Homo sapiens: one gene and its partner. The protein of the gene in region 2 interacts with the protein of the main gene of each other region in a pairwise test. Each region holds a gene or a part of one and is shown on either strand. Other genes may lie near its edges.

Region 1 (3,820 bases), on a different chromosome or scaffold from region 2:
TCCATGTTAAGCATTCCACAGCTCTAAAAGGTACACGTAAGTCTTCCCAAATATCTTATCCCAGTGGTTTGTAAAAGTGGTGTGCGTAGAATTTTTAGGAAGCCTGTTAAAGCCACAGAGACCAGGCCCTACTCTAGACCTGATGAATCAGAATGTCTAGTGTATGGGGGCTGAGGATCTGCATTTTTTTTTTTTGATGGAGTTTTTCACTCTTCTTGCCCAGGCTGGAGTGCAATGGCATGATTTCGGCTCACCGCAACCTCCGCCTCCTGGGTTCAAGTGATTCTCCTGCCTCAGCCTCCCGAGTAGCTGGGATTACAGGCATGCACCACCACGTCCGACTAATTTTGTATTTTTAGTACAGACGGGGTTTCTCCATGTTGGTCAGGCTGGTCTTGAACTCCCGACCTAAGGTAATCTGCCCGCCTTGGCCTCCCAAAGTGCTGAGATTACAGGCGTGAGCCACCACGCCCGGCTGAGGATCTGCATTTTAAGAAAGCTCTACAAGTGATGCACAGGCTGTTTGTGACCTCTAATCTATGCCAGTTATTTTATTTATTTGTTTACTTTTATTTTCTTTCAGCTGACAAAATGATGTATATTATGAATAATAAATTTCAGTCTACATTATTTACAAAAACAACAATAATTTATAATGTTTACTTAAACACTGGCTTTCAACAAAACACTTAGAAACACCTAGCGTCTTGTCCCCGAGAGTTTGCATCCGAAATTTGGACTGCTTAATTTATTTTTTGGCATATATATACACCAAATTAAATGAAAAAAATATATATATATATACTTAACTTTTAGGTTCAGGCGTACACATGCAGGTTTGTTATATAGGTAAACTCGTGTCATGGGGGTTTGGTGTACAGATTACTTTATCACTTGGGTACTAAATTTTGCACTGAATTGTTGTTTTTTTCTGATCTTCTCCCTCCTCCCATCCTTAACCCTCAAGTAGGCTCTGGTGTCTGTTGTTCTCCTTTTTGTGTCCATATGTTCTCATCATTTAGCTCCCACTTACAAATGAGAACATGCAGTGTTTGGTTTTCCATTCCTGTGCTAGTTTGCCAAGGATAATGACCTCCATCTCCATCCATGTTCCTGCAAAGGTCATGATCTCATTCTTTTTGATGTGTGCCAGTTATTTGTTACATGTATTTTGTCCTAACTTTTTTCCTGAATAGTATCTCCAACCAAGTAATAATATGTTTGTGGAGAGAGAGTTTTTTATCAGATCTGCAGCTATTTAAATATTGATGCATATAAGTGTATCTTCCCCCCAAATTAATTATATCATATATAACCTGAGATTTATTATTGCCAGTAGGAATTCTAACTAAGGAGTCACTACTTCCTTCTATTCAAACTTTTCAATAATTCTTCATCTCTATCTTCAATAAAGCAAGAATAATATAGGATTTCATTACATAACAAGGAATTCAGGTCAGAGGCAATGGGTAATATTTACTTAGTTGTTATTGAGGGAAATTATTACCCTTTAAACAATGAGGTTGCACAATAGTAGATCCTGGATGGACAATGTAAACCCCATCATTGAGAAATTATATCAACTTAAGAGAATACATTGCATTTTTTGTGAATAGTGCAAATATCTACTGTTGCACTGCTTTACTTAAAGAGGAGTTCCCGAAAGAAGACTGGTGGTTATTCTTAGGATTAGGTGATAGAGTCAGAAGGTCTTACCTGACACTTAGGGAGATTTGGAAGCTGGTGTGGGCTTTGGGTTCATCACAAGTTTGAGGCAGAGTCTGCACTCCTAAAGCAAAGGGGAACTCTTCCTTTTCTGGGAGAATATTGTATTTCAAGGATGTCTATAGAACATCAAAGACAAAATCAGTTTTTTGCCCTTTCCCAGAATTCCTGTCCACGTCCCTAACCCTTTCTCTGATCTGTCCCATTGTTTTCTGAGTTAGGACTTCTCAGAGAGAACAGCTGCTGTCCTCATCTGTCCTGTCCTCACCTGCCCAAGAGTCTCACCTGGAGGTAGACACATCCTTCTCCTGTCACTTTCATGCTGTATTCCCCAGGCAGCTCTGGCAATGAGACCTGCTGCAGTAACAGGCGGTTGTTGTTGTCCACTTGGAATTTGCTGGAAAATGTCCCTGAAGACTGGATAGTCACCTGTGCAGCCTTCCCAGTCCTGGTAAATGTGGCTGCTCCATATTTGGACAGAGCATGGAGAGCCACCACTGTGTCCTGTTAGAGACAGATGAGTGAGAGAACCCATTGGGCATTATAAGGCTTTGAGGGCTGAGATATTTTTCAAAGACCCATGTGAGGGACTTTGATTTCCTACTTCCCTCACTACTTAAATATAGGAGCTGTAATTTCAAGATTGATTATAATCTTTAGATAGTTGAAGAACCATAACATTCACATATCTACCTTGGACTGTATGCCCTACATGTTTATTTTATTTATCAGAAAATTGATCCTTTTCTCTCTGTAAGTATATGTGGGACATGGAATGTGGAAAACATGTGAATGGCAATCAGTTATTGGCATCAGCTATTTGCTAACATGTCTTTCTTGACAACTATGCTCATATCTGCCACCACTCAAGCAAAGTTCAGTCTGGCTCTCTCCCATATTAAACTTTGCTCAGTTGCTGAGGTCAGTGTCCTGGAGAGAACCCAAGGTTCTTTGCAGCCATGAGCAGAGTCATGCTTCAGTTTCTCCAAAAGAAATAAAAGATGAGTATTATAATTATCTTCTGGATTTAATGACATTTTTATTTGGCTTTCCCTTTTTATTGGATGATTTCCTGTTCCCAGTGAATGTCTGCTGGTATGTATCCTCAACAACATTAAACCTGCTTGGCCTCCTTCAAATAATATGTTTCTAATAAATGAATGATAACCTTTAACAAAATTACTTAGTTTTTTTCATTCATATGATAAAAGATTAATACAATGGAAATAGGATGGAATGCCATTTTGTCACATTTTTTCCGTTTTAGGGTATATAAGCAAACATCCGAATTCTCTGAAGATAAAACTTTCTGCTGTGTACATATCAATGAATTGTTCAGATACATGGTTATATAGCTAGATTTAGGAGGTTGGATGAATAAAGACAGTTCTTTATGCTCCTGATGAATAAATGTTTGTGTATTAAGAGGTGAATAGGGGGCTGGACGCAGTGGCTCACACCTATAATCCTAGCACTTTGTGAGGCCAAGGCGGATGGATTGCCTGAGCTCAGGACTTCGAGATCAGCCTGGGCAACATGGCAAAACCTCGTCTCTACTAAAAATACAAAAATTAGCCAGGCATGATTGCACATGACTGTAATCCTAGATACTTGGGAGGCTGAGGCACTAGAATCGCTTGAACCTGGGAGATGGAGGTTGCAGTGAGCCGAGATTGCACCACTGCATTCCAGCCTAGGTGACAGAGCAAGACTCTGTCTTAAAAAAAAAAAAAAAAAAAAGGTGAATAGGGGAAGCACAAAATGTGTAGTTTTGAGAAAAGCCTATTAAAGGGGACCTAAGAATGGAGAGATTTGCGAGGAGAGGTTGTTGGATTTTGAGTAGAGTTCCTTTGAACAGTTTGAAAGAGACCCTAGAGCTTTCAGGAGAATGGCAGGAGACATCTCCTTCATTCTGCTGGTGCTCCACTGCTGCTTGAGGAAGGCAGTGTTGTTATGGGAAATAGGAGATGGATAATAACACAGCGATGGGGTGCCGGGATTCTGAGCATTTCCTTTTGGCCCTCTTTGACTTTGATTTGCTTTTATTTCCATTATCCTTGGATACTGAAAACTTTTCCTCATTTCAAGTTACTGT
Region 2 (3,820 bases):
GACGGGGGTGGATGCGGAGGTGGGTGGACTCCTGGCCGCAGCTTGGACACTGGATCTCAGCGGCTGAGGGGCAGCTGTGGGGCGCCCACGGGCAGATGCGGAAGTGCCGGCAGCGTTAGTACTGAAAAAGGATGACCTGCAAGAGGAGGGCATGGGAGGTGGCTGAGCTGGGGGCCTGCCCCACCCTGCTGCCCCCCAGAGAACCTCAAAGGCACAGAGAAGAAGGGTGGACTCAGGGCCCAGATCTGAGTTTAAATCCTGGCTCTGTCAACTGACTTGCTGTGGGACCTTGGGCAACTCACTGCACCTCTCTGAGCCTGTTTCCTCATCTTTAAAACAAGGATGACAAAATCTCTCTCTGAGAATCAGAGAGATTCAATGAGATACAACAGCAGCAGCAAAAGCCTTCTGGGCATTTCACCCTGCACCTTCTGTGCCTGATTTCACGGAAGCCGCACCATAGCCCCGTGAGGGAGTTCCAACGTTCTGTTTTACAAGGAGGGCACTCAGGCTCAAAGAGGTGGAAGCGAGTGAGCTCGTGGGCACACAGCGAGGAGGAGGACCTGGCACTGGAGGCCAGGCCTGGCTCACAGCAAGCTCTCCCTACCAAAGCACATTGCCTCTACCTTTCCAAGGTCACCGTGACCATAGTGGCTGACTGCTTATTACCCACAGGGCCACGGGCTAAGCACTTCACATGCGCTTAATCTTCACATGCACGAAGCCTAGAAGTGCGTGGCTCAGACACACTGGGTGCCCGATACACAGTGGGAGATCAGGACTGTCTGTCCCTTTCCCCCTCCCACTCCCACCTCTAGCACTTGGTTGACATCTCACTGCTGCTGACACAGCCAGTTCCCTGAAGTTCAGGTCAAGGATCACTGGCTGGCTGGTCAATGGCAATGTGTCATTTCACAGTAAAGTGTGAGGGGCATCTGGTGGGCATGACTACATGGCTGTTCCCTTTTCTGATCAGGAATGTTACTTGCCCAGAACTGGTTATCACAAGGAGGTGATGGAGGAAAGCAATGATGATGATCACCATAATAGTGATCATGATCATAACCAACACCTGGGGGCATTTTCTGTGCACCAGGCTCTGTGCTGGGCTCCTTACACACATTATGCATTTATTCTCTGCAGCAACCCTACGGAGTGGGAACTATTATTATCCCCAGTTTGCAGATGTAGAAACCGCAGCTCAGAGAAACTAATTGCATTCCCAGATCTCACAGGGGAGGTGGCAGAGCTGGGATTCCGAGCTGGCCTAACTCCAGAGTGGCCAGGGTGGGCATTCCTTCCCCACCCTGGCCACTGCTCCACTTTGGCCTCCAGAATGCCTGGCTTTTAGCCCTTATTAGGAAAAGCTCTCTCAAGAGTGGCGACCCTGGTAGGACCCTTCCCCTCCATGGGTCTCAGTCTCCTCCACTGATCAATGACAGCTTAGCCCTGATTTCTAAGAACTTTCCAAGTGTTGGATTTGTGGGATCAGGGGACACAACCAGGAAGAAATGTGGCTCTGGAACCTCACAGGTGTGTGTGGCCAAATGACGATGCGGTGGAGGCAGGGGATGCTCCCCTGAGTGCTCAGAGCACTGTTCTCCTGGCCAGGCCAGTGCTGGTCTAGATGAGTGGGTTCAGGGGCCAGCCCCATGGGGACACTGAGTCTCCTCACAGCTAGGCAGGCTCAGGCCTGGAAGGACTTGGAAGAAAGCCCAGACAATCCTGTGCTGGCCACACACATACCACACCCTGCCGCCCACCAAGCCCCAGGAATTTGAGAGTTATGGACAAGAAAAGTCCCTAGGAGCTGGCGGAAAGGCCTGACAGTGAGAGGACAGAAGGTCATGAAGGAGGGAGAGACACTTTAATGCAGACTTTCTGGGTGCAAAGTTGGGGACACAGCCCAGCAAGGGAAAACTCTGGCTCAGCAGCCAAATCCAGAAGCCAGAAACTGTCTATAGCCAAATCTGACAGCCCCCAGCATGGCTCATCCCCCAGGCTGAATGAGACAGAACCACAAGCTTAGCTGAGCAACCAGGAGGCAAAGGCTCCTCTCCAAGCACTGAGCCCAGCCCTCTGTACCTCCAGGGCCCATCCCTGCCCTCCACATAATGTCCAAGACCCTCTTTCCATGATCCTTTGTTCTGTGGCCCCTGTCGGCTCTCCCCACTTCCCTGGACCTCAGCCACACTGAACGTCCCCCAGGGTCCCCTCCGGCCCAAGCTCCTCCATGCCTCTGGGCCTTTGCACATGCGGTTCTCTTGATGTGGAACACCCTTCTTCTTGTCCCCTGTCTCTCCCCTAGAGCTCACTGCCTCCTCTTCTGGGTCCTCTAAGGTCAAGTTTCTCGCCTACTCCAGCTGCCCATTCCCCTGCAATGTAACTGCCCACACCCTGTGCTAAGCCACAAGCTCCCTGAGGGCAGGGATCATGTCAGCTCACTTCTGCAGTCCCAGAGCCAGGTCTAATAGGATGAATCCCCTCCCACAGGAAGGGACAGCTCTGAGGCAGGTGGCTCTAGGATCCCGGCCAGTTCTGCCCATGCTCACATTGTGATTCTGGATGAGCACTGCTCTGTCTGAGCCTCCGTTTCTGCAAGTGTGAAATGGAGGTCATCGCAATCACCCTCCCAGGGAGACTATGAAGGATGAGGTCGGAGAGAGGGCTGTGTACACAATGAAGTGCTGCACAAAAGGAAGTGATTACTGAGCCGCGCAGACTTCAGAGTCCGACAGACTCGCTGCATCCCTGGACAAGTCATGTCACCTCTCGGAATCTGTTTATCTCTTTACAATGAGAAGGCCATCTCTATGTCCACAAAGTGGCTGGGAGGTGTGAACCAGATGCCATGTGAGAAGTAGCTGCCTTGAACAGAAGGAGCTCAGCAAACGGCAGCTCTTCCTATGGATGTGACAGTCTCAGCGGCGATGGTGTTCCTGGGGCATGCTCACTCACTACAGATTCTGCAGGATTTTACGTTAGGCACTACCATTTATTTACAAATGTATCTGTCCAGGGCTGTCTGTACCTCCACACCATACACATTCTCCTGTGGTGCCCGGCACAGAGAGCTCAGTACATACTAGGTGTACTGAGCTCAATCAGGAGGCTGAGCCAGAGGTACCATCCTAAAGGAGCTGTCCCCACCCCGGCTGCCCGTTAGAATCACACAGGCTGAGTATTACACTCGCAGATCCCTATATCCCACCCCAACAGACTCTCTGAGAGCGAGGCTTAGGAATCTCTGTATATTTACAAGCTGCCCAGGTGATTCCGAGCACACCAAGACCGGGATCTGCTGAACTGGAGGGCTCCTGACTCCAGCCCTAATGCTCTGACCCTCTCCCTCCGAGGGACTGCCACACCCACTGACCTCCAGGGATCCCTGCTTCCTACTGGGTGTCCTCCAACCCAGCAGTCTCTGAAGACTGCTACAGTGATGTTTCTGCAGCAGGCCCTCCAGGACCCCACACTGCCGCAGCATAAAATACAGACTCTTCCACCTGGCAGCCTCAAGGCTCTCGCTTTCCTCCTCTCATCCTCCCAGACATGCCTGCCAACAATGCTGAATGGCTCAGGGTTCCCTGAGAGCTCTGGTGTCTCATGCCTTCCCTGATGCCTCAGCTTTCAGGCCTGGCCTTAGAGGTTGCCTCTTCTGGGAAGTCTTCCCTGCCTCTCTCCTTTGCCCCCTTCCCCCTCCCCAGCTCCCATGGCTTCCCCTGTCACACTGTATTGTAACTGTTGGGATCTGCCTCCCCCTCCAGACTCTGGCCTCCTCAAGGGTAGGGACCACACTTTACTTGTTTCCACTCCTAGC

Evidence for each region.
Region 1: the proteins of LHX6 (region 2) and A2M interact in binary tests that used the Homo sapiens proteins (3 or more experiments, as listed by UniProt).

The regions. Positions count from the first base shown.
Region 1 is NC_000012.12:9,070,643-9,074,462, forward strand, and holds part of A2M (alpha-2-macroglobulin isoform a precursor), read right to left. Parts: intron 2,230-3,820; coding exon 2,011-2,229; intron 1,845-2,010; coding exon 1,717-1,844; intron 1-1,716. UniProt on the Homo sapiens protein: Is able to inhibit all four classes of proteinases by a unique 'trapping' mechanism. This protein has a peptide stretch, called the 'bait region' which contains specific cleavage sites for different proteinases.
Region 2 is NC_000009.12:122,204,645-122,208,464, forward strand, and holds part of LHX6 (LIM/homeobox protein Lhx6), read right to left. Parts: intron 137-3,820; coding exon 116-136; coding exon of another isoform or gene 57-115; 3' UTR 1-56. UniProt on the Homo sapiens protein: Probable transcription factor required for the expression of a subset of genes involved in interneurons migration and development.